Homo sapiens: one gene and its partners. The protein of the gene in region 5 interacts with the protein of the main gene of each other region in a pairwise test. Each region holds a gene or a part of one and is shown on either strand. Other genes may lie near its edges.

Region 1 (3,500 bases), on a different chromosome or scaffold from region 5:
ATGTTTAAGCCACCATCAGCCACTTTTCTGAGAAATGTAGCCAAAACATTCCTAATGTATTCACCATAGGAGAAACTCATGCAAAAACTGAGAGGCAATGAAGAGCAAGGCATTTAGAGGAACCACAAGTCATTCTTCATTATTTTAATTTAGAGTATAAGGTGGGAAATAACATAATAAGTCTGAAACAGAAAACACCAACTTTATGGTGCATAGCTTTGAAAGATATATTAAGCATCTTCAGTTTTTTTCCTAACTAAGGAGGAAAATTAGGACAAATTTTAAGGATGGGCATAAGATAAGACTGAATAAGTATGCAGAAGTCAGATCATAGGAAGCTTTGTCTAACATGCTAGGAAGCCTGGCCTTTATCCTATAATAAATAGGGAGACTCTTAAGCAAGCGAGTAAAATAGTTGTGTTTACAACTCTGACTTGCATAAATGGAGGCAGAAAAGCCACAGATTAATGCACTGATAAAAGCAGAAAATTATACTGTCCTGAACTAAGGTAACAGCAGTAAAAATGAAAAGGAAACTACATGTTCATGAGTTATTTTTGAGTATTGAGTGTATTGCTCCCAGTTACCAATTTGGTTGGGAATTCTAAGGAGGAGTTAAAGAAAATTGTTGTGTCACAAAATAAAGCTCCGATTCTCCTTGAGCACTGGCTCCTGGCAAGGACAGAGTCCTAGAGAGAAGCATCACTTTTCTAAAACCTTTGTTGACTTCCTGTATTTATTTTAATTGATCTCCTATATTTTAAAGGCATTTTATAAACCAATGTTTGGGATATTTTCCCTACTACTTAGAAACACATGAATCAATATACAACTCATGCCAAGCTGATGAAAATGTGAGAAATTCTTAGGGTAAGAGGGAAAAAAAAAACTAAACAAATGGAATGAGTCATATATACTCTCTATTTCCTACCCTGTATATTTAACAGGGGTGGCTTGAATCAATTAAAAGTTCCTTTCAAGCTCTGAAATTCTGTATTTTTTTAATTTTAATTTTAATTTATTATTTTTTACTTTATTTTTATTTTTTGAGACTGAGTCTCATTCTGTCACCCAGGCTGGAGTGTGGTGGCTCAATCTCGGCTCACTGCAACCTCCGCCTCTCAGGTTCAAGCAATTCTCTGGCCTCAGCCTCCCGAGCTGGAACTACAGGCGCCCGCCACCACACCTGGCTAATTTTTGTATTTTTAGTAGAGTTGGGTTTTCTCCATGTTGGCCAGGCTGGTCTTGAACCCCTGATCTCAGGTGATCTGCCCACCTCGGCCTCCCAAAGTGCTGGGATTACAGGCATGAGCCACTGTGCCTGGCCTAATTTTTATTTTTAATTGACAAATAATAATTATACATATTTATGGTGCATAATGTGATATTTCAGTGCATATATACATGGTGGAATGAACAAATCAGGCTGATTAACATATCCATTACCTCACAAACTTACCATTTCTTTGGGGTAAGAACATTTAAAATCTAATCTTTTAGCAATTTGGAAATATACAATACATTATTATTAACTATAGTCACCATGCTGTGCAACAGATCACCAGATCTTAGTCTTCTTGTCTAACAGAAACTTTGTACCCTTTGACCTACCTTTCTCCCCCACCCCTCCCAATCCTATATCTTAATATATAAGATAGAGAGCGACAGTTATGTTAAGGAAAGATGGGAACTCAGAGTGGATTTGGCCATGAAAGATAAAGTAAAAGCAAGTATAACACGAAAGAACAAAAAAGCATGACTCATATCTGTGCAGGCTTTTTAATATGTTTCTGTCCCTTGCCAAAACAGTAACTCTTGTTACAACTTCTACCACAAAATTTGGGATCAGGAAATTATGAGTTCTTAGAAGTTACTTAAAATCAACACATAGAGAAATAAGACCTGCAAGAAAGATCTCTGTTCTATCATCCTGCAGAAGAGACAATGTGAAGTAGGTTTAATGGAATTTCTCAGAGTCTGGGGAAAAAAATCTGGTTTCCAGGCCTGGATTAATCATTAACTAGCTATCTATGTGACACTGGCAAGAACAGTGATGAAAAAGTCATGCAGCAAATATAAGGGGAACGAGGCAAAGACCGTGAAAAAAGAGAATCACATAACCTCTCCACTTCTCATCTAAGCCAAGAAGAAGGCTCACAATGATAATATTGACTGACATTTCGAGGGCAGTTCCATTATATGCATCAAAAATAGCCATTTAAAATGTTCACTACATCAGTAGATTGTCAGTAATTGTTGCTTATCTTATTTCTGCAAACCTGATTATATTTTGGTGATCCTTATATAAAAAAACATGTAGTATGGAGATTTAATTTTATTTCAATTCTTATTAAAAAAAAAAATAGAGGCCAAGGCAGGTGGATCACTTGAGGTCAGGAGTTGGAGACCAGCTTTCCCAATATGGCAAAACCCCGTCTCTACTAAAAATACAAAAATTAGCCAGGTATGGTGGCACGCGCCTATAGTCCCAGCTACTCAGGAGGCTAAGGTAGGAAAATTGCTTGAACCTGGGAGGTGGAGGTTGCAGTGAGCTGAGATTGTGCCACTGCCTCTAGCCTAGGTGACAGAGCGAGACTCTGTCAAAAAAAGAAAAAAAAAAAAAAAAAAGGAAAGGAAAGAAAAAATATTGGGCAATTAACAAGGTTTAATAAACTCCAACTCTATCCCATATCATAGTAGCAAAGCACATGTTTTAAAATTTTAAAAGGCATATGGATTGGAAAGCACTAATAGTATTATGTTTAAGGGCTCATGAGTAACTAAAAATTCAGACTCATTCTTCAAAGAAATACAGATTATCTGTCCAGTTAAGTATAGTGATGAGAAAAATGATAGCTAGTTAATAATTAGAGCTATAAGATAAGGCTGAAGCAGTATGTAGAAGTCAGATCACAGAAAGTTTTGTCTAACATTTGTTCATCTTTGAGTGCTTAGTATTGCCAGGTTCTATGATAAGCATTTTGCATGCATTATCCTTTTTTTTTTTTTGCTTTGTCACCCAGGCTGGAGTACAGTGGCAGGAACATGGCTCACCGCAGTCTCAACCTCCCAGGCTCAAGCGATCTTTCCTCCTCAGCCCCTGCTAAGTAAGTGGGACTACAGGTGCCTGCTACCACACCCAGCTATTTTTTTAGTATTTATAGAGAAAGAGTTTGGCTATGTTGCCCAGGCTGGTCTTGAACTGTCGGCCTCTATTAATCCTCCCATCTTGGCCTCCCAGAGTGCTAGAATTACAGGCTTGAGCCATCACACCCAGCCAGTCCCTTTTTAAAAAATAACCATAATATCCTATGACTTCTCTTAACTTCCAAGTACGATTCTCAGTGAACTTGAAATTCTATTCATGCCCATGTTATTTATAATTCACATGATTTATTTCTCATCCAGTGTCTTTTGCTCAGAAAGACAAAATGCATAGGAAGTTAGCCTGTGCACATTGTAGTATCAAAAGGCACTGGCTTCTGGCCAAGTGTCAGATC
Region 2 (3,500 bases), on a different chromosome or scaffold from region 5:
GGAAGGACTTAAATTCCACTTCTTGAAGAGGAAGGAATATTAAAGAACTTATGGACATATTTAAAACCACCACAGGCCAGGCACGGTGGCTCATGCCTGTAATCCCAGCACTTTGGGAGGCCAAGGCGGGTGGATCATGAGGTCAGGAGTTCAAGACCAGCCTGACCAACATGGTGAAACCCCATCTCTACTAAAAATACAAAAAAAAATTAGCTGGGCGTGGTGGCGCGCACCTGTAATCCCAGCTACTCAGGAGGCTGAGGCAGGAGAATCACTTGAACCCTGGAGGCAGAGGTTGCAGTGAGCTGAGATCGCGCCACTGCACTCCAGCCTGGGCAACAGAGCAAGACTCTGTCTCACAAAAAAAAAAAAAAAAACACACACACACATAAATAAGTAATAGGACCTTTGACAGGCAGCTTTTTTTTTTTTTTGTGACAGGATCTTGTTCTGTTTCTCAGACTGGAGTGCAGTGATAAAATCATAACTCACTGCAGCCTTGAGCTCCTGGGCTCAGGCAATCCTCCTGCCTCAGCCTCCCCAGTGGCTGGAACTATAGGCACGTGCCCCCATGCTTAGCTAATTTTTTATTTTTTGTAGAGACAGGATCTCACTATGTTGTCAGGCTGGTCTCAAACTCCTGGCCTCAAGCAATCCTTGCACCTTGGCCTCTCAAAGTGCTAGGGTAAGGTGTGAGCCACTGCACCTGGCCAAGGATGTCTTTTTTTTTTTGAGACAGGGTCCCGAGACAGGGTCCCACTCTGTCGCCCAGGCTGGTGTGCAGTGGCATGATCTCGGCTCACCACAACCCCCTGGCTCAAGTGATTCTCCTGCCTCAACCTTCCGAGTAGCTGGGATTACAGGGGCGTTTGCCACTACCACCCAGCTAATTTTTGTATTTTTAGTAGAGATGGGGTTTCGCCATGTTAGCCAGGCTGGTCTTGAACTAACCTCAAACGATCCACCCGCCTTGGCCTCCCAAAATGCTGGGATTACAGGTGTGAGCCACCGTGCCTGGCCCCATTTTAATTTTTTAAACTAAATTTTAGGCCAGGTGCAGTGGCTCACTTGAGCCCGGGAGGTGGAGGCTGCAGTGAGCCGAGATTGCTTCACTGCACTCCAGCCTCGGCCACAGAGCAAGACTCTGTCTCTAAATAAATAAATAAATAAATAAATAAATGTAAATAAATGAAAATAAAAATGATTCTAACCTTTTAATATTTTTTCTAAACTCTTGATAGCCCTAGTGGCTCATTTAGGAAATGTCACTATGGGCTAGAAATATTAATTTGTAGGTCAGCAGTTTCCTTAGTTTCACTTCAGTTTGGTTTTCTTCTGATAAATTCAAGTAAAATCAAAGTTAAATTTTTTACTTACAAGTAGCATTTGTGATCCAATTTTTCCAAACACTTCTATCTAGTATCCATTCAACCAGCCAGCATTTAATCTGAACACATGCTACAAAGATGACTGGAATGGTGTTCACTTAATGATAATGATGGTTATTTCTAGGTGGATTTGGAATGGTTACTTAAAAGAATAATGTTAAAATGTTTATATTTTTTGAGATTGAGTAATGGTACATGGAGATTTGAAGTTTTGCACACACACAAACAACTAAAAAAAGTGAGCCCTGCCACCACTTCTACTTAAAATTATTTGTTAGTGATTTCCCATTGTTTTTAAGATTAAATTCAGGGGTCTTAATGTGACCCTGCATGATCTGGTCCCTGCTTGCTTGCCTGCCTTGCACTATACTTTTCCTCCATGCTCTTTTTACACTTAAAATCATCTTTTTTTTTTTTTTCTTTTTTTTTTTTTGAGACAGAGTTATGCTCTGTCATCTAGGCTGGAGTGCAATGGCGCGATCTCTGCTCACTGCAAGCTCCACTTCTGGGGTTCATGCCATTCTTCTGCCTCAGCTTCCTGAGTGGCTGGCATTACAGGCCCCTGCCACCATGCCCAGCTCATTTTTTTTGTATTTTTAGTAGAGATGGGGTTTCACCATGTTGGCCAGGCTGGTCTCGAACTCCTGACCTCGTGATCCACCCGCCTCAGCCTCCCAAAGTGCTGGGATTACAGGCGTAAGCCACCGCGCCCAGCCTGATTTTTGTATTTTTGTAGAAATGGGGTTTTACCATGTTGGCCAGGCTGGTCTTGAGCCTCCTGATCTCAGGTGATCCGCCCACCTCGGCCTCCCAAAGTGCTGGGATTACAGGCGTGAGTCACCACGCCTGGCCTCCTGTGTATTTTAAATCAATTACTTAGAACAGGGGTATTCAATCTTTTTGCTTTCCTGGACCACATTGGAAGAAGAGTTGTCTTGGGCCATATATAAAATACAGTAATGATAGCTGATGAGCTTAAAAAAAAAATCACAAAAAAAATCTCATAGGCCAGGTGAAGTGGCTCACGCCTGTAATCCCAGCATTTTGGGAGGCTGAGGCGGGCGGATCATGAGGTCAGGAGTTCAAGACTAGCCTGACCAACGTGGTGAAACCCCGTCTCTACTGAAAACACAAAAATTAGCCTGGCGTGGTGGCATGCACCTGTAATCCCAGCATTTTGGGAGGCTGAGGCAGGAGAATCGCTTGAACCCTGGAGGCAGAGGTAGCAGTGAGCCAAGATCACGCCACTGCACTCCAGCCTGGGCGACACAGCAAGACTCCATCTCAAAAAAAAAAAAATAATAATAATAATAATTTCATAATGTTTTAAGAAAGTTTATGAATTTGTGTTAAGCCGCTTTCAAAGCCATCCCAGGCCCATGGGTTGGACAATCTTGACTTAGACTATCTAATACAATGTAAATACTGAGTAAATAATTGTTCTATTTTATATATTTTGTATTTTTTAATTGTATTGTTATTTTTTCCCTAATATTTTTGATGTGTGGTTGGTTGAACCCATGGATATGGAGGGCCCACTGTATGTTTAAATTAATAAACAATTAAGTGCTTGTCATATGCCATGTTCTCACTGTAACCCCATGAGGTAGATATTATTATCATTCCCAATTTTCACCTCCTTTACCTGTTTGAGTTTCCTCATAAGGTATCATCTGAATAAAAGATTCTACGGCTGAGAAAGCTAGGAGGTCTGTGCACTATGCCAGGCTACCTTTCATGCTGCCTGAGCTCATAGTATGGACATTTTTTTTTCTTTTTGAGGTAAAGTCTTGCTCTGTCACCCAGGTTGATCTCGAATTCCTGGCCTCAAGCAATCATCCTGCACAAAGTGCTAGGATTACAGGTGTGAGCCACTGTGCTCAGCCTTAAACTTTATTCAGGAATTGTTGTTGGCCAGGTGTGGTGGCTCACGCCTGTAATTCCAGCACTTTGGGAGGCCAAGGTGGGAGGATCGCTTGAGTCCCAGAGTTTAAGACTAGCCTTGGCAACATAGTGAGATCCTTTCTCTACAAAAAAATTTAAAAATTAGCCAGGCATAGTGGTTGGTGTGTGCCTGTAGTCCCAGCTACTTGGGGAGGCTGAGATGGGAAG
Region 3 (3,500 bases), on a different chromosome or scaffold from region 5:
TTTTTTTTCCCCGTTTTTTCTTCAGAAAACGGACCTCAGAAAACCAGGACTAGCTCTACTGTCGGGGGCAGGGTGACCCCATCAGTAACCTACAACCCCTCTAGAACTTCACAACTCCCTCTCACCATGGAGTTTGCATTTGATGCAGAAAGGCATGTGATCCCTCCCTCCTTCTGACCTCTTAGCTGGGGATTCCATGGCCACACAACCCTGTGACTCCATGTCCCCCCGATTCCAGGACCCCCCATGGCCCCATGATTCCTTGACTCCTATGACCTTATGACCCCTGACCTTCCAAGTGACTTCCTTGGACTTTGACCCCTGTGACTGTGCTTCCCATTCCCCGCCCCCACAACCTGTGACTCTGGCTCCCTTTGGGGGTCTTGTTAGTCTGGGCCTCCCCAGGAAGATGTGGGGGAGGCTCTGGCCCCTCCTCCTCAGCATCCTCACAGCAACTGCAGTCCCAGGACCCTCACTGCGGAGACCGTCTAGAGAACTAGATGCCACCCCTCGGATGACCATACCCTATGAAGGTTAGACCCTCAACCTCAAAAGGCAGCAGAAGCCAGGGCTGGGGGTGGGGAGGCACCCCAGAACTAGGGCTCACTGTTCCTGCTCTCCCCAGAGCTCTCTGGGACCCGGCACTTCAAGGGCCAAGCCCAGAACTACTCAACACTGCTGCTGGAGGAGGCCTCAGCAAGGCTGCTGGTGGGAGCCCGAGGTGCCCTGTTCTCTCTCAGTGCCAACGACATAGGAGATGGGGCTCACAAAGAGGTCAGGCCCTGGAACCTGGACCACCCAGAGGGTCTCTATGCTTATCCAGCTCCCTGGGACCTCAACTTCCTTAAAACCCTGCCAGCCTTCCATAGCCCCCTGGTCAGACAGCACTGCCCTTCCCAGCCCAGGTGTTCCTTGCATTCAGTGTTCCTCCTGAAATTGATCCCCACCCCAATTTCCCCAACTCTGTGGGGTCCTATTGCCTGGTCCTATGAGTAATAGGTATTGGGGTCAGTGCATCAGCCTATTCCCTTTGCCTCCACTAGATCCACTGGGAAGCCTCCCCAGAGATGCAAAGCAAATGTCATCAAAAAGGGAAAAACAACCAGGTATGTGGTCTGCCCTGTCCCCAGCTCCTTTCCTCCCCTTCTTCCTCAATCAGGGATGCCAGGATTGTTGGGGACACAGATGGGTAGGTACAGACCTGCCAGTCAATCTCAGCAACCACAGTAAACATTGTAAGTATTGCCAGAGTGGCAAGCCATGGGCACAGCATTTTTTTTTTTTTCTTTTTTTGAGGTCGGATCTCACTCTGTCATCCAGGTTGGAGTACAGTGACATGATCATAGCTCCCTGTGGCCTTAAACTCCTGGGCTCAGGGGATCCTTCCACTTCAGCCTCCTGAGTAGCTAGGACCACGGGCACATGCCACGCCCAGCTAAGTGTTTTATTTTTTGTAGAAACAGGGTCTTGCTATGTTGCCCAGGCTGGTCTTGAACTCCTGGCCTCAAGCAGTCCCCCTACCTTAGCCTCCCAAAGTGCTGGGATTACAGATGTAAGCCATTGCCCCCGGCATCTGGGCACAGTACTTCTAATTCAACCATCTGGTGGCCTACTAGTTTGTCCCGCAGTGGCATCTTCATCTCCTCTGGGATCCCAAATAATCAAAATGGCAATAAGTAGGCTGAACGCGGTGGCTCACATCTGTAATCCCAACACTTTGGGAGGCTGAGGGTAGGAGGACAACTTGAGTCCAGGAGTTCAAGATCAGCCTTGGCAACACAGCGAGATCTGTCTACAAAAAAAATACAAAAATTAGCCAAGTATGCTGGCGTGCACCTGTAGTCCCAGCTACTTGGGAAGCTGAGTGGGAGTATCACTTGGGCCTGGGAGGTTGAGGCTGCGTGAGCTATAATTAAGCCACACATTCCAGCCTGGATGACAGAGCAAAACCCTGTCTCAAAAAAACAAACCAACAAAAAACAGTAAGTAACCTCTACAGATGCTTACTTACGATGGGTTACTTACCAATAAAACCATCATAATAAATTGAACCATTGTTAAGTCAGCAACTATCTACAGCAAGTGATGATTTAGCTATTATCTCAGTTAATTCTAAAATAACCCTATGAAATAGTATTATCCTGCATTTTGCAGATGAGAAAAATGAGTCTTTGGTCAAGGAATAGGTCAAATACCCAGTATTCCATGGACAGGCATTAATGAAGCATCAGCCCTTTCCAGCTAAAGAATAGGGTGTCTCCAGGGGTCCCATGTCTGGCTAGGTAATGGCTCCATCTGGAGAGCTTTTACAAAATAAACGGCCCTGGGCTGGGCATGGTGGGTCACACTTGTAATCTCAACACTTTGGGAGGCCAAGGCAGGAGGATCACTTGAGCCCAGGAGTTCGAGGCCAGCCTGGACAATATAATGAGACTCTATCTCTAATAAAAAATAATTAAAAAAAAATTCCCAAGATCCACTGGGCCAAGGTGGGCCAGGGGTGGTGTTGGGACAGCTCCGTTTAAAAAGGCATCTCCAAGAGCTTCCATCAAAGGCTGCCTCTTGGTGCAGCACAGGTAGAAAATGGGGCTGGGGAGGCAGATGGAACCAGGTCATGGAAGGCCACAGATGCCCAGCTGGGAGTTTGGGTTTTATTCTGTGACAGTGAACACCCTCAGAATTTGATACTTTAGAGGCTCTAACTTTAATGTATCACCCAGGTATATTATAAATGCAGATGCTAAACTTAGTAGGTCTGGGGAAGGGCCCAAGAGTCTGCAATTCTAACAAGCTCCCAAGTGAAGTTGATGCTGCTGGTCCCCAGACCACACTTTGGATAGCAAGGCTTTATAGAACAGTTCCCAAAGCATGTTCTGAGGAACATTAATTTTCAAAGGAGGGGTTTAAATGTCAAATGAGTTTGGGAAACACTACATGCCCAGTCCCACAATGCACAGCAACATCCTTCAGGCTCTAGGAAGTAAGCCCAGTAAAGATAGGTTTCACCTGTGGTTTCCAAAGTTATTTGACCAGAGAATTCCTCCCTACCCCCCTTTAAAAAATGTAAACATCCGCTGGGCACGGTGGCTCAGGCCTGTAATCCCAGCACCTTGGGAGGCCGAGGCGGGTGGATCATGAGGTCAAGAGATCGAGACCAGCCTGGCCAACATGGTGAAACCCTGTGTCTACTAAAAATACAAAAATTAGCCCGGCATGGTGATGCACATCCATGCGAGTAGTAGTCCCAGTCACATCACCATGGTGTTGAGAGTAGTAGTCCCAGCTACTCGGGAGGCTGAGGCAGGAGAATCTCTTGAACCCGGGAGGCGGAGGTTGCAGTGAGCTGAGATCATGCACTGCACTCCAACCTAGCGGCAGAGCAAGACTCCGTCTCAAAAAAAATAAAATTAAAAAAATAAATAAACATCTTGGGGAAACATCACTTTAGGAATATTTATCTGGCCCCAGGCACTGGATGGATGAAAATAGGGTGAGTCTGG
Region 4 (3,942 bases), on a different chromosome or scaffold from region 5:
TTGTGTAAAGTGCAAGCTGCTACAGAAATACTTTGTGGTGTCATTAACGATACAGACTCTACGCTTATGTAGTGGGCAATCTCTCCAACTAAGGAGCTTCAAACAAAGACCCGTATCTGGACGGGCGCAGTGGCTCACGCCTCTAATCCCAGCATTTTGGGAGACCTAGGGGGGAGGATCACGAGGTCAAGAGATCGAGACCATCCTGGCCAACACGGCGAAATCCCGTCTCTAGTAAAAATAAGAAAATTAGCTGGGCGTGGTGGCGCGCGCCTGTAGTTCTTGCTACTCGGGAGGCTGAGGCAGGAGAATCGCCTGAACCCGGTACGCGGAGGTTGCAGGGAGCCGAGATCGCCCCACTGCACTCCAGCCTGGCAACACAGCGAGACTCCGTCTCAAAGCAAAAGAACAACAAAAAAGACCCCCCAGTATCTAAAATAGCACCCCGAGGAGGGTCAATACGTTTGAATAAATGATGAACATCCAAGAAAATGCAATTCAGCTGGACTCACCTGGATTGCACTCCAGCAGTAGGTGTGGAGGTCTACTTGGTTTTCCCAAATAGATTTGCGCCAGGGTCTCAGCCAATCTCCGATCGGTTACGTAACGCTTAAAGTCTAAGCTGGCCTTAGACGCCTTCCTTGGCGGATTCCTGAAATCCGGTTCGGGCCACAGCTGCGGAGAGGAGTCAGAGAGCCCACAGTGGTTCCTCGCCGGCAAATGCTTTCGCGTCGCCGCTTCAGACCCTAAAATGCAAAAGCGACCAGCGCCCGCCAAGGCGGAGAGCCTCAGCCGCCGAGGAAGCCCGACCACTGGGATCCACATGTCCTTGTCTCTCAGGCCCGCTCCAAGAATCACCTAGTGCAGCTACTACAGTGAACCCCACGCAGGGTATCCCACGTGGAACATTTTCTGGCGTCCGGGCCAGGTCAAGCGGAAGTAAACACTAGAGCCTGCGCATGCGAACAGCGGAGCCTTCCTGCTTTTCTCCCTCACTTCCGCTTCCGCCTCGGCTCAGCCGCCCGAGGATTGTGAGTGGACCGTTGAGGAGAGCGACCGACCATCCGGCTGGTGTCCGGACTCGTACTCTATGGTTGTCCGCGCTCTGCGCTTCCTCTCTAGCCGCCAGTGCTCTATGCTCCGCGGTCGCGGGCCGCCAGCCTCCAGCCGGCCAGCCGCGAGGGGTGCGCAGAGGGAGGCGGGGCGGAAAGGCGAGAGGTGTCTCCTCCACCGGAGCCAGGGGAGACCCGAGCAAGCTCCGTGACAGCACGTCGGCCGCCATGTCGCCGAGTGGGGCTGGAAACAGACCCGGCGCCCAGCGGTAGCCCTCCTTGCGCCTCCGATTCCCAGGTGAGGAGAGGAGGAGCGGGATGCAGGGGACCCGCCGGCTCGCGGCCGGGATGGAAAGCCTTTCGGAAGCCTCTCGCTCCTCCCCCTGCGCTGTCCTCCTCCAGCCGCGCAGCCTCTGCCCTCCGGGTGAGGTGTAGCCCGGTCCCCTTACCTCCTCCGCCTCTCAGGTCGCCTGTTTTCCTCTCCTTTCTCAGCTACTGTGGGTCTCCTATTGCTGCGCGTCGCGCCAATTTCTCCCTCCCTAGGGGACTAGCGCCAGAAGTCGTTCCTCACCCGGCTCCTGGAGGAGCCTGCGGCTTCCACGGTCTCCGTTCCTTTCTGTTGTGTGGCCCACAGCCCGCTCTCCCCACCCTCGTGGATGGTTTTCATTTCCCCCCCACACCTGGTCCCCCCCATCACTACCACTTTGGTTGTCAAGAACCGCGTGGTGTCTCCCTTCCATTCCTCTCTCTGGGCCAATATTTTCCTTAATTTTTTCAGTTTGTGTGTTTAAAAGACTTAAAGTTAAGATTAAAAATGAAGATGTAAAAGCTTACAATTCCTTTCTAAGCTTAAAAAGATTAAGACTTTAGGATGCTTACTGTATTCCTTATGTAAACTTAGTCAAACACATCGTACTGTGGAATGCGATTTAAAAGACCCAATTTTGAAGACTAAAAATAGGATGCTGTAATGGAAATTTTGGCAGTCTTTTTTTTTTTACCTATTGGGCAATGTTAGAAGACACGGTTCTTTGAGAGTGTTTTCCGTGTTTCAGGATCAAACTTAGAGCTTTTACCCATTATCCTTACCACCAAGGCAAGAAACGGCAGCCAATCAACTCCGTGTCTTAGAATACGTACAATCCTTTCTGCTTACTCTACTGAGAGTGTAATTGAGTTTGGCATTTAAATGCACGAGGAAAAGGTTCCTAAGGAATGTATCACCCAGCAAATAGTCTGAAGATTATACTCATCTGATGAAGCTCAAGCGGATAAAGAATTGACAACTAAATATGACCTTTTGTGTATTATAAATTTGTTAGGACATCATAGAAAATATCTCATCAACTGTTGTGCAAACTGTGGGGACTCACTCATTGGTCTTAATTTGCTTAAATTCTTTTTTCGTACAGTTTTCTCACTGACAATTTTCTAGAGGTGACTTTGCATCCTCTGAACCTCTCTCCATTACTGAGCTGCCTCCCCCTCTCCCCTTAAAAAACATTTTCATAGATTCAGAAATACACTTTTTTCCCCCTCCAGGACCTGGAGTCCTAAATATTTTTAAATCAGATAAAATAGAATTATGTCTTCATGGTTCACTCATAGAAATGTGTCGTTGAATTTCTGACTTTTTAAAAAAAACACTGTGGTGGCTGGGTATGGTAGTTCATGCCTGTAATCCCAGCACTTTGGGAGGCCAAGGTGGGAGGATCACTTGCTGCCGGGAGTTCGAAGCCAGACTGGGCAACATAGACTCTGTCTCCTTAAAAAAAAAGAAAGAAAGAAAAAGAGAAAAAGAAAAATAAACACATTGTGGTTAAAAACAAAACAGTTATTTTAAAATGCACTGTCTTATTTCATAATGTTTGTGGACCAAAGTTAGCCTACTGAGTCCTAGAAAAACTGATGTCATTTTTTATTTTGCTTTTGAGTGTTATTATTTTCTCTTGGTTTTGGGAAAGAGAATTACATTATAATATTCCCTTTTTACAGTGTTGATGGTTCACTTGTTTGTAATTGAAGGTACTTGAATAATAAGAGATTTTTGTACATCTTATTTTTTTTCTGAGGTCCCAGGTGCTGAGAATGTTGATTTCACCTTAAAGATGAACTTTATGATCAGGATTTAGACATACTTTATTAGAAAAACTTGATTAGTGTGCAGTATTTCCCATCTTTTTTCTTAAGAAGTGTGGTTTTCTATCCTATGCTGTTTTTGCCTTTTTGAAGTAATTTTGAGATGGAGTCTACTCTGTCGCCTAGGCTGGTGCCATCTCGGTTCACTGCAACCTCCGCTTTTCGGGTTCAAGCAGTTTCTCCTGCTTCAGCCTCCCGAGTAGCTGGGATTACAGGCTCCTGCTACTATGTCCAGCTAATTTTTGTATTTTTAGTAGAGACGGAGTTTCGCCATGTTGGCCAGGGTGGTCTTGACCTCAGGTGATCCTCCGACCTCCACCTCTCAAAGTGCTGGGATTACAGGCGTGAGCCACCACGCCTTTAAAATACTTTTTTTCTTGCTTTTTACATTTAAATATATTTATTTATTTGTGAAGGCGGAGTTTTGCTATGTTGCCCAGGCTGGTCTCAAATTCCTGGCCTCATGCAATCCTCCCACCTCAGCCTCCCAAAACACTGGTATTACAGGCATGAGCCACCACACCCAGCCTCTTTTGGCTTTTAAATGACAACTGTAATTGGGAAATGCCAAGTGATAGTCCTTGCTTGCTGTTAGAATTAAGGCTGTAGGTCTGTAGCAGCAGTCTTCAATAGAAATACAATGCAAGCCATATAAGTAATTTAAAATTTTCTAGTAGTGGTATTAAGAAAGTAAAAAGAAACAGGTAAAATTTTAGTAGTATATTTTATTTAATCTTATATATGTTATTTT
Region 5 (3,500 bases):
GGCACAGGCTGGAAAGAGGAGGGAGTGGACTGGCAGGGAAGATAGAGCAGTAAGCGAATAGAATACCTGGGGAAAGGGACGCCAGAAGAGTGATTGTTGTCTGGTGAACTGTGCTGTCAGTGTGTATGTCAGAAGCCAACAAAGTGGATATTCTCTTCACTCAGCTTAGGGAAAAAATTAATTTTTGTTTCACAGATAGATTCGTTTCCTTCCCAGGAGTATTATAGGCCTAATTACTGTCATAGTTCTCAGTAACTTTAAAAAGGCTGTGGGGAAGAATGGCATAACAGACTAGTATCTTGTACCCAGCCTGCCTTTTTCTTATTCTATTTTTTTTTTTTTTTTTTTTTTTTTTTTTTTTGAGACAGTCTTGCTCTGTCACCCAGGCTGGAGTGTGGTGGCACAATCTCAGCTCACTGCAACCTCCGCCTCCTGGGTTCAAGCGATTCTCCAGCCTCAGTCTCCTGAGTAGCTGGGATTACAGGCGTATGCCACCATGCCTGGCTAATTTTTGTATTTTTAGTAGAGATGAGGTTTCACTATGTTGGCCGGGCTGGTCTCCTACTCCTGACCTCAGGTGATCCGTCCACCTTGGCCTCCCAAAGTGCTGGGGTTATAGGCATGAGTCGCTGCGCCCGGCTTTTTTATTTTTTATTTTTTATTTTTTTGAAACAGAGTCTGGCTCTTTCACCCAGGCTGGAGTACAGTGATCTGATCTGAGCTCACTGCAATCTCTGCCTCTGGGGTTCAAGCAGTTCTCCTGCCTCAGCCTTCCAAGTAACTGGGACTACAGGCATGCACCACCATGCCTGGCTAATTTTTGTACTTTTGGTAGAGATGGGGTTTCGCCATGTTGGCCACGCTGGTCTCCAGCTCCTGACCTCAAGCGAACCACCCTCCTTGGCCTCCCAAAGTGCTAGTATTACAGGCGTGAGCCACAGCACCCGGCCTTTTTTTTTTTTTTTTCCTTAGAGTCTTGCTCTGTCACCAGGGCTGGAGTGCAGTGGCGCCGTCTCGGCTCACTGCAACCTCTGCCTCCTGGGTTCAAGTGATTCTCCTTCCTCAGCCTCCCTAGTAGCTGGGATTACAGGTGTGTGCCACCACACCCAGTTAATTTTTGTATTTTTAGTAGAGACGGGGTTTCACCATGCTGGCCAGGCTGGTCTCAAACTCCTGACCTCAAGTGGTCCACCCACTTTGGCCTCCCAATTAGAATTAGAGGTGGAGCGACCGTGCCCGGCTAAGGGCCTACTATTTTTTTTTTTTTTTTTTGAGACAGAGTTTCACTCTTGTCACCCAGGCTGGAGTGCAGTGGTGTGACCTTGGTTCACTGCAACTTCCACCTCCCAGGTTTAAGCGATTCTCCTGCCTCAGCCTCTGGAGAAGCTGGGATTATAGGCGTCTGCCACCACGCCTGGCTAATTTTTTGTATTTTTAGTAGAGACGGGGTTTCACCATGTTAGTCAGGCTGGTCTCAAACTTCTGATGTCAGGTGATCCACCTACCTCGGCCTCCCAAAGCATTGGGATTACAGGCGTGAGCCACCGCGCCCGGCCAGGCCTCGTATTTTTGCTTTTGCTCATGTTTTCATGTCTGAGATAGAGGGCCTACTATTAAAGCACTGTGCTGAGGCTGCAAGAAGGTACTAGTGTGATTAAAACAATCTGGTCCGGGCGCGGTGGCTCGCACCTGTAATCCCAGCACTTTGGGAGGCGGAGGCGGGCGGATCACGAGGTCAGGAGATCGAGACCATGCTGGCTAACACGGTGAAACCCCGTCTCTACTAAAAAATACAAAAAAAATTAGCCGGGCATGGTGGCGGGCGCCTGTAGTCCCGGCTACTCGGGAGGCTGAGGCAGGAGAATGGCGGGAACCCGGGAGGCGGAGCTTGCAGTAAGCAGAGATCGCGCCACTGCGCTCCAGCCTGGGAGACAGAGCGAGACTCCGTCTCAAAAAAAAAAAAAAAAAGAAAAAAATAAAACAATCTGGCATTATAATGCCATCCTGATTTTAGTTAATCTAGTTGACTGGCTGGCCTCATAAGTAGCTGTGATGATCATAATTTTTATGCGAAACACCTGTCATTGAGCATACAGGTGTACTGAAAGAATTGGGTGGAACAGGGTATTTGAAATCAGAATTGTTCTGGAAAGTCGGGTACATAAAGCTCTATCTTTAGCACAGTTGTCTGTATTGCACAATTAATATTTATAGAATGGTACACCTTATGTTATCTTTTTATTTTTCCACCTAACTCTCTCTCTAGATTGAAAGGTACTTGACGTGCAGAGCAAGATCTTATCTTTCTTTGTAGTCACAGTACTCAAGAGGGTGATAAATGTTTGTTGATGATAATGTAATGTCACCTGTCCAAGTGTAGCCATCATCTTCAGTAGTTACTTGATCTGCTGTTGTGTCTGGCAAGACTGCTATGTGCTGCTGCAGAGGAGCCATTGTCACCTTGAACTATCTCTGTGGCAGTCTGGAGGAGGGCAGGAGGGAGAAGGGAAGGAATAAATGAGCAAAGCTGAGTGTGGATAGTAGTGTTTGACGGCAGATGAAAAAGCAAACTTGGTGAAGTGTGGCCTGGGTGGTCATCTAACTTCTACCTAGAAGACATTAAACCTTTACTCTCTTCTTTTTATGTAGGAAGGCAGAGGGAAAGTCAGGCCTTCGGTTGGCTTGGTAATAGCAGGTATCCCAGTAATTAGAAAATAACTTAAAAAACTCCATTCCTCTACCATATACTTGAGAATTTGTCAATCTCAGCAAAATTTTCAAATGTCTGTGTTCAGTGTCATATTTGTCCTGCTCTGTAAGACTTTTTGTGTTTATAAAAAGGCAAGTGGACCCAGAAGGGGAAAAATATGCTGTTCTGAGAAACTAGCTGCTGTAGGTTATGCTTTTCTGTCTTTGCTTGTGGCTCTTCTGGTTATTTGAGAAAGGCAAAAAAACCCAAAGTCTTTTTTCTACTCTGTTCCCACAGTCACTCAACACAACACTTCTGATACCAGATATATGGGAGTTGTTTCCCCATACACCAAGCAATTCTCTAGTAGACACACCGGTGCGGTGTCCTCTAAGTCAGTTAAATTCTGATACTCTATCTGGAGATAGCGTCAGATCCCACCAATTGAGGGCTCAGTCCCACAAAACTGTCCCAACTTGAGGCACTAGTCACAAGTAGTAAATTGTCACCTATACTTCTGACCTACTAGCTATAAATCGAAAGTTCTGACAATCCCTCCTCGAGTTTGATTAATCTGCTAGAGTGGGTCACAGAACTCAGGAAAACACTTTACTTACATTTACCAATTTACTCTAAAGGATATTAAGAAGGATACAGATGGCTGGGCGTGCTGGTTCATGCCTGTAATCCCAGCACTTTGGGAGGCCAAGGAGGGCAGATCACCTGAGGTCAGGAGTTTGAGACCAGCCTGACCAATGTGGTGAAACCCCATTTCTAGTAAAAATACAAAAAAATTAGCCGGGTGTGGTCG
Region 6 (3,500 bases), on a different chromosome or scaffold from region 5:
AGGCTGAGGTAGGAGAATGATGTGAACCCGGGAGGTGGAGCTTGCGGAGAGCCGAGATCGCGCCACCGCACTCCAGCCTGGGCAACAGAGCGAGACTCCGTCTCAAAAAAAAAAAAAAAAAAAAAGAGAAGTATTAGACCACAGATGGGGATATCCTTAATAAGGCATTGTCTGTATTACATAGGAGACTTACTGTATGGGTGGACATTATAGAGAAGGAAGAAGTTCAAGAAGAGCTTAGAGAGTAAGTGATTAATCCCTAGGGAAATTGTGCTTTCCCTCTGAGGGCACAAAGGATACCACTGTGTTCTCTTATCTGAAGCTCCATGATACTAGAGTCTGACATGGAAGATTGTCTTCTGTATCATTGATCTGACTAGGATGGCATTTTAAAATGTTCTCTTTCTAAATGGAGAGAAGCAAAATTGTGTCAGTGATCTTAACCAGTAGAAAAAAAATGCAAAGAAAGTATAACCTGTTTCTGGAGAGGTAACTTTTGACTGATCAAGCAAAAATTTTCCTCTTTGGTAAAGACTGATCTTCATGATAAGTGGTAAGTAAATTAAGCACCTTTTAGAGGAGAGGTAACTCTAATAGTTTCATTCAACAAAAGTTGACTGAGTGCCCACAATGTTCCAGGCACTGTGCTAAAGTCTGAGAGAGATTGACACAGTTTCTGCCCCTGAGAAATTTATAATTAGGTTGGAGAGACAGACCCATAAGCAGATACTGCAACATAGTGTGGTAAGCTCTGCATTAGACACACACATAAGGATTTATAGGGAACCAAAAGGGCATTCTCTAAGCAGCGTCTCAAAAGATACCATTGAACATAGCTAAGAATATCCACCACAGGGGCCCTGGTCTCACTTTGTTGATGAGTGTTATAGAGCAAAATGATTAAATTGAAACTTTGACAGTTTAATACTCTATGGGTATATTAATGGCATGCTTGTTGCTACATTCATTTCAAAATGAAAGTTGAAAAGCTTTATTAAATGAAGTGAGAAGATTCTGTGCATTTGACCTAGTGCTACTAGGTGGTTCAGAGGGTGACAATGGGGTGCCCCATATGATAAATGAAACGTCTATGAGGATAAACTAAGAGATTGTAAATGTAGAACTGAGTGTGAGGGAGATCACTTAAAACTCTAGTCAAGGTGACCTGGGTATAATCTCAAAGAGAGGATTGGAGTGTGGCTGAAAAAATGATACTTGTTATTACATGTACCAGACATTATTCTTAGGACTACTTTCAGAAGTAGGTATTTTTATTGTTCCCTTTTTGTAGATGAAAAAATAGGCTTAAAGAGGTTAAGTGTAACTTGCTTAAGATCACACACACAGAGTAAGTGGCAGTACTATCTGGTTGCAGAGCTCATGCTCTTTCCCATTCAAGCTTATACAGTCTTAGAGAGGTTTGAGTAAGTAGGAACTTAACTAATTGTGATGTACTTTGTCTGGAAAAAGAATTTGAATAGATATTCTCAGTCCAGCGCATAGGAGAGGAAAGCCCAAAGAGCTGTTCTCAGTACCTACCGCACTACCTGCTGCACATCACAGAAAGGGCTAAATCTGGCAAACACAGATGTAGACCCCAGGGAAATGTTCTTGGATGTGGGTTAGGGATGGTTCTGTAGGCTTCACTGTGGCCTAGATAAATCTTCCTCCCTTTGTTCTTGCTCCATACTTGTTAGTTTTTCATTGTTCATTTGGTTTTACAGGTACCTAGCCACTCAGAAAGAGGGAGCCTTGGATAGTAGTCACTGAAAAGGACTACTATTTCAAACCCTCACTTCAACCGTATTCCTCGTTGTCAAACAGCTTTCTGCATTAGTCTCATGTGAGCTGGGGTAGCTGAGTGTGGGTCTGTTCTGTTCTGGGGCAGTGACAAGATCCAGATTCCTCAACCTATTAATACAAAGGTGAGGCCACAATTTCATGGTGTCAGTGACAGCAAGAGGGAGTTCCTGGAGTAGCAGTGCCGTGGGGCCAATGCCATTCATGATGGCATGGAGGCTGCAGTATCATGCTCCTTGGAGGAGGCAGCAGTGGTATCTTGCTTGGTCCTGGAGTTTCATGTGATTTAGAATGCAGATGTATTATCTTTGGCTGTGTATTCTCAGAATCTGGGTCTTTAGACCTCTTGATGAAACTGAGCTACCCATTCCACTTACATTATAATAAGTTCATTTTTGTCTTTAGTGGAAAAAGAAAAAAGAAGAGGCCTACAACTTGGATTGCTATGAATTCACCAAGGTAGTGCCATACTGTTAGGCACTGTATGTATGAACAGCCAGCCCCTCTTGCTTTGCCAGGACACTGCACTCACATGCTTGTGTGTGTGTAGTCAAAGCAGATTAAGATTAGGATACCAACTGTAAGGACTAATTACGGCAGTTTGTCACAGCTTCGCCAACCTAGCCTTTTTTTCTTCTAGATTTTTTAGGATTGAAGGCAGAAAGGAAAAACATCCTTCAGGAAATCCTTCAGGAACTTTTGGATTATTGAGATTTGCACTAAATTGGATACAGTTTTACTCATATTTATCACCTACTTTCTTTGCCCTAAGTACTTCTCGAGAAAATTTAACCCTGCCAGAATTTATTGAAAAATGTAACTTATTCCTAAATAACTTGAATAAAAACCTTAAGCCATGACTTCAAATAGCACATCAGTAATACCTAATCATTTTAGCTGTTTATTTCTGTATGTGCATTTCCTAGCAGTCTACACATACAGATGGTTCCAGCTGGTTTTAGTTTTGCACCATTTCTCTATTTTATCAATCTGCTATTATAAATACTAGGAAATAAATGTTTAAAAGGGGGAAAAGAAGCAAAGGGTGTAGCTGATGTGCAGATTGGGATTGAATGTGGGAATGAGGGGTGATGGGAGTGATTGGAAATATTGCAGCCCTGCATAGTCTCCATCAGGGATGTGACAAAGTGGATAATCTCTACCACGTGAGAAACTTCCAACATTACTTGCAAATCAGATTTAATGAATAAAATAAAGCTGTAGCACTTGGCACATTCATTGGGACCCTTACCCAAACATTATCAATATTGTGTACGTTATCTTTATTATCAGGTCACAAAAGATGTCATAAAAGAATTTGCAGATGACGGCGTCAAGTACCTGGAACTAAGGAGCACACCCAGAAGAGAAAATGCTACTGGTAGAATTTATACTTCTCAGCAAATGTACTGTCCTTTTCCTATGTGCTTTGATCACTCACATGTTTGTGAGTGGGAATATGAAGCACTAACTTTTATACTATTGTGTTGTTCTGTATTTCATTGAACCTTTAGTCAACAGTCCAAGTCCTCTCTCTGATGTACATTAATGATGTTCATTTTGTTTGTTTTAGAGACAGGGTCTTGCTGTCTTGCCCAGGCTGGAGTGCAGTGGTGCAAACATAGCTCACTGTAACCACAAACTCCTGGGCCCAACAATCACCTCAGCCTCTAAAAGTGCTGGGATTACAGGTGTGAGCC
Region 7 (3,500 bases), on a different chromosome or scaffold from region 5:
CGTGAGCCACCGCACCCAGCCACTCTGCAACCCTTCTCACAATGCAGGGATTCTGTCTGCCTCACAGGGGCATATGCCCCATCCTACAAAAGACTCCGAACGCAGAGCCTTTTCCTGGGGCCTTGGGCTGTGCAGAAACACAGGCTGGGGCGTGCAGTGATCTGGTCCTGTGTTGTGTGTGGGACTGTGCATGACGGTCTGAGATGCCAGGGGAGGGGTGTGGAGGCAGCTTGGGGGTGGGGCCCAGACTTTGAGCCAAGGGAGCACCACCCAGCCACGCCAGCCTGGCCCCAGTTCTCTGAGCCAACTCTTGGAGCCCAGTGGCCTCCTGCAGTCCATAGACAATGGTCTGAGCTTCCCTGCTGTGTGGACACCCCTCCATGCTGTGCTGCATTCAGGCTGGCTACAGACGAGGGGCGCGGAGCCGTGAGGCTTTGGGGGCTCAGGGCCACTGAGCCAGACCCTCTACCAGGCCCCATAGAATCAGCAGACCCCTTTGGTGGCCAGAGGAGCCCGCAGCCCTGGAGCAGTTCCTGGGTGCCACGTAACCCCTCCTGTGGTGTGGAGGGAGGCTTGTGAGGCTGGCCCACGAGCAGTGAGGGGCCGGGGGTGCTGATGCCTAGGGGTGAAGGAGGGTGCAGAGGTGGGCGGGGTGAGGGGCCGGGCCAACCTCCTCCTCCTGTGGCCATACAGGGGTGCACCTGCCCAACCTGGACCAACTGAAGCTGAACGGCAGCCACCTGGGCTCCCTGAGGTGAGCGCCTGAGGGGGGTGGGCTGGGGCCCTGCCATGAGGGGGTCCGATGGGACAGGCCCTGCAGGGATGGGGGGAGAACTTGGTGGGAGTGGGGGGACTTGGGCTGGGACCAGGGACCCAGGGGTCTAGAGAGCTCCATCCTGCTGGCTGCCTGACCCCACGTGACCCTGTGGAGGGTGGATGGGCAGGTGGGGGGAGCCTGGGACATTCAGGCAGGTGTGAGGGGGTCTCTGAGAGGGTCTTTGTTGAAAGGACGAGGTCCTGGGCCAGCCTGACTCCCGGGGGTCCTGCCTATGCCCTGTGGTCTCTGGCTCAGCCCAGATGTACCCCCACTTGCCGTGTGACCCCTACACATGGAGCTCTTGTGTCTGCAATGGGTGGGAGCCCCTGCTGCAGGTAGCACCTCACTCAGAGCTGGGGCCAGGGCCAAGGCAGTCATGCCAGGTCGTGTGGCCAGCAAACTCCACAAAGGTGCCCCTGACCTGGGCCCAGAGCTCCCACCTTGAGGTGTCCCTGGTGAACACCCCAAAGCCAACCAAGGACTGGGGGCCTTCTGGCCCCCGCACGGCTCATTGCAGCCCAGGACTTTGGCTGCACCATGAGGCCACGAGCTTGGGGTTTGGGCAAGAACGGCAACCACCAGCCAGAACCTGCACGTAGAACCCAGACCAGACGGCAGCCCCTGGGAGAGGCACAGCCAGAGCCTGTGTAAAGAACCCAGACCAGACGGCAGCCCCCGGGAGAGGCACAGCAGAGCCTGTGTACAGAACCCGGACCAGACGGCAGCTCCCGGGAGAGGCACAGCAGAGCCTGTGTACAGAACCCGGACCAGCTCCCAGGAGAAGCACAGGAAGCTCCGTGCCCCACAGCAACTCACAACATTCGGAGCTGAAGACGTTGGCGGCTCTCACGTCATCGGAAGGGAAAGAACAAGGCTGAAGGAACATCCGACTTTATTCTGGGGGTTTGGGCAAAGTGGGTTTTGTGAAAACGCTGCTGGTTTTATGTAGCCTGTTCCCAGCAGCATAAGGCAGGGGAATTCCAGGCAGAATTCTAGAACATTCTCCAGCTGTGTGAATTGGGCTCCAAGGGCCACATCTAGTTATTTCCAGATGAGGATAAGGGTATTCATTAAGCAACCTCTCTTTGAATGTTTTCTTGATTTTCCTTATTTGTACTTCTGTTTATCAAACAAATATCAAAATGGGCCGGGCACGGTGTCTCACGCCTATAATCCCAGAACTTTGGGAGGCCGAGGTGGGCAGATCACCTGAGGTCAGGAGTTCGAGACCAGCCTGACCAACATGGAGAAATCCCATCTCTACTAAAAATACAAAATTAGCCGTGCATGGTGGCACATGCCTGTAACCCCAGCTGCTCAGGAGGCTGAGGCAGGAGAGTCGCTGCAGTGAGCCGGGAGGCAGATGCTGCAGTGAGCTGAGATCACACCACTACACTCCAGCCGGGGCAACAGAGCGAAACTCTGCCTCAAAAAAATAAAGTAGGCCAGGCACAGTGGTTCACGCCTGTAATCCCAGTACTTTGGGAGGCCAAGGTAGGCAGATCACGAGGTCAGGAGATTGAGACCATACTGACTAACATGGTGAAACCCCGTCTCTACTAAAAATACAAAAAATTAGCCGGGCGTGGTGGTGGGCGCCTGTAGTCCCAGCTACTCGGGAGGCTGAGGCAGGAAAATGGCGTGAACCCAGGAGGCGGAGCTTGCAGTGAGCCAAGATCGCACCACTAAACTCCAGCCTGGGCGACTGAGTGAGACTTCGTCTCAAAAAAAAAAAAATACATGAAGATCTGGAAATGGAAGAAAGTTGGAAAACACTTTGGGGTCAAAGACACAGTGGGCAGCCCACAGAACTGGAACAGAGAGGGGCCTGGACATGAAGTCAGGCCTGCAGCAGGCACCCAGACGACACCGCGAACGAGAAACTAGGATGGGTTTGGAAAATGGACTTCTTAGAAACATGTCTCCCAGCCAGGCGGGTTGGCTCACACCTGTAATCCCAACACTTTGGGAGGCCAAGGCAGGCGGATCACGAGGTCAGGAGTTCAAGATCCGCCTGGCTAACGTGGTGAAAACCCATCTCTACTAAAAATACAAAAAAAAAAAGAAATAGCCAGGCATGGTGTGCGCTTGTAATCCCAGCTACACAGGAGGCAGAGGCAGGAGAATTGCTTGAACCCAGGAGGCGGAGGTTGCAGTAAGCCAAGATTGCTCCATTGCACTCCAGCCTAGGCAACAAGAGCAAAACTCCATCTCAAAAAAAAAAAAATTAGCTGGGCTTGGGCTTGGGCTTGGCGGTGCATGCCTGTAATGCCAGCTGCACAGGAGGCTGAGGCATGAGAATCACTTGGACCTGGGAGGTGGAGGTTGCAGTGAGCTGAGATCGCGCCACTGCACTCCAGCCTGGGTGACAGAGCAAGACTCCGTCTCAAAAAACCGTAAAAAACAAAAACAAAGAACAAAAAAAGTGCCCCTAATACAAGAGTAAATGATATTCTAATGGAGATGGCTGTACTTTTTTTTTTAGCTTAACAAATAAGCCTCTATTATTTTGTGTTTTTTTTTGTTTTGAGACAGAGTCTCACTCCGTTGCCCAGGCTGGAGTGCAGTGGCGCAATCTCGGCTCACTGCAATCTCGCCTCCCGGGTTCACGCCATTCCCCTGCCTCAGCCTCCCGAGTAGCTGGGACTACAGGCGCCTGCCACCACGCCCGGCTAATTTTTTG

Evidence for each region.
Region 1: the proteins of HMOX2 (region 5) and BAAT interact in binary tests that used the Homo sapiens proteins (3 or more experiments, as listed by UniProt).
Region 2: the proteins of HMOX2 (region 5) and COA7 interact in binary tests that used the Homo sapiens proteins (3 or more experiments, as listed by UniProt).
Region 3: the proteins of HMOX2 (region 5) and SEMA4G interact in binary tests that used the Homo sapiens proteins (3 or more experiments, as listed by UniProt).
Region 4: the proteins of HMOX2 (region 5) and CNST interact in binary tests that used the Homo sapiens proteins (3 or more experiments, as listed by UniProt).
Region 6: the proteins of HMOX2 (region 5) and MAPDA interact in binary tests that used the Homo sapiens proteins (3 or more experiments, as listed by UniProt).
Region 7: the proteins of HMOX2 (region 5) and LRRC56 interact in binary tests that used the Homo sapiens proteins (3 or more experiments, as listed by UniProt).

Annotation. Positions count from the first base shown.
Region 1 is NC_000009.12:101,364,507-101,368,006, forward strand, and holds part of BAAT (bile acid-CoA:amino acid N-acyltransferase), read right to left. Parts: intron 1-3,500. UniProt on the Homo sapiens protein: Catalyzes the amidation of bile acids (BAs) with the amino acids taurine and glycine. More than 95% of the BAs are N-acyl amidates with glycine and taurine.
Region 2 is NC_000001.11:52,688,348-52,691,847, reverse strand, and holds part of COA7 (cytochrome c oxidase assembly factor 7), read left to right. Parts: intron 1-3,500. UniProt on the Homo sapiens protein: Required for assembly of mitochondrial respiratory chain complex I and complex IV.
Region 3 is NC_000010.11:100,972,504-100,976,003, forward strand, and holds part of SEMA4G (semaphorin-4G isoform 1 precursor), read left to right. Parts: intron 1-25; 5' UTR 26-409; coding exon 410-533; intron 534-625; coding exon 626-774; intron 775-1,043; coding exon 1,044-1,106; intron 1,107-2,481; exon of another isoform or gene 2,482-2,581; intron 2,582-3,500. UniProt on the Homo sapiens protein: Cell surface receptor for PLXNB2. May play a role in axon guidance.
Region 4 is NC_000001.11:246,565,314-246,569,255, forward strand, and holds the start of CNST (consortin), read left to right. Parts: upstream 1-1,142; 5' UTR 1,143-1,350; exon of another isoform or gene 1,351-1,476; intron 1,477-3,942. Other genes in the region: TFB2M (dimethyladenosine transferase 2, mitochondrial), read right to left, coding at 513-825. UniProt on the Homo sapiens protein: Required for targeting of connexins to the plasma membrane.
Region 5 is NC_000016.10:4,479,398-4,482,897, forward strand, and holds part of HMOX2 (heme oxygenase 2), read left to right. Parts: exon of another isoform or gene 1-164; intron 165-2,366; exon of another isoform or gene 2,367-2,482; intron 2,483-3,500.
Region 6 is NC_000015.10:43,337,172-43,340,671, forward strand, and holds part of MAPDA (N6-Methyl-AMP deaminase), read left to right. Parts: intron 1-3,093; coding exon 3,094-3,181; intron 3,182-3,500. UniProt on the Homo sapiens protein: Catalyzes the hydrolysis of the free cytosolic methylated adenosine nucleotide N(6)-methyl-AMP (N6-mAMP) to produce inositol monophosphate (IMP) and methylamine.
Region 7 is NC_000011.10:544,027-547,526, forward strand, and holds part of LRRC56 (leucine-rich repeat-containing protein 56), read left to right. Parts: intron 1-693; coding exon 694-754; intron 755-3,500. UniProt on the Homo sapiens protein: Required for the assembly of dynein arms.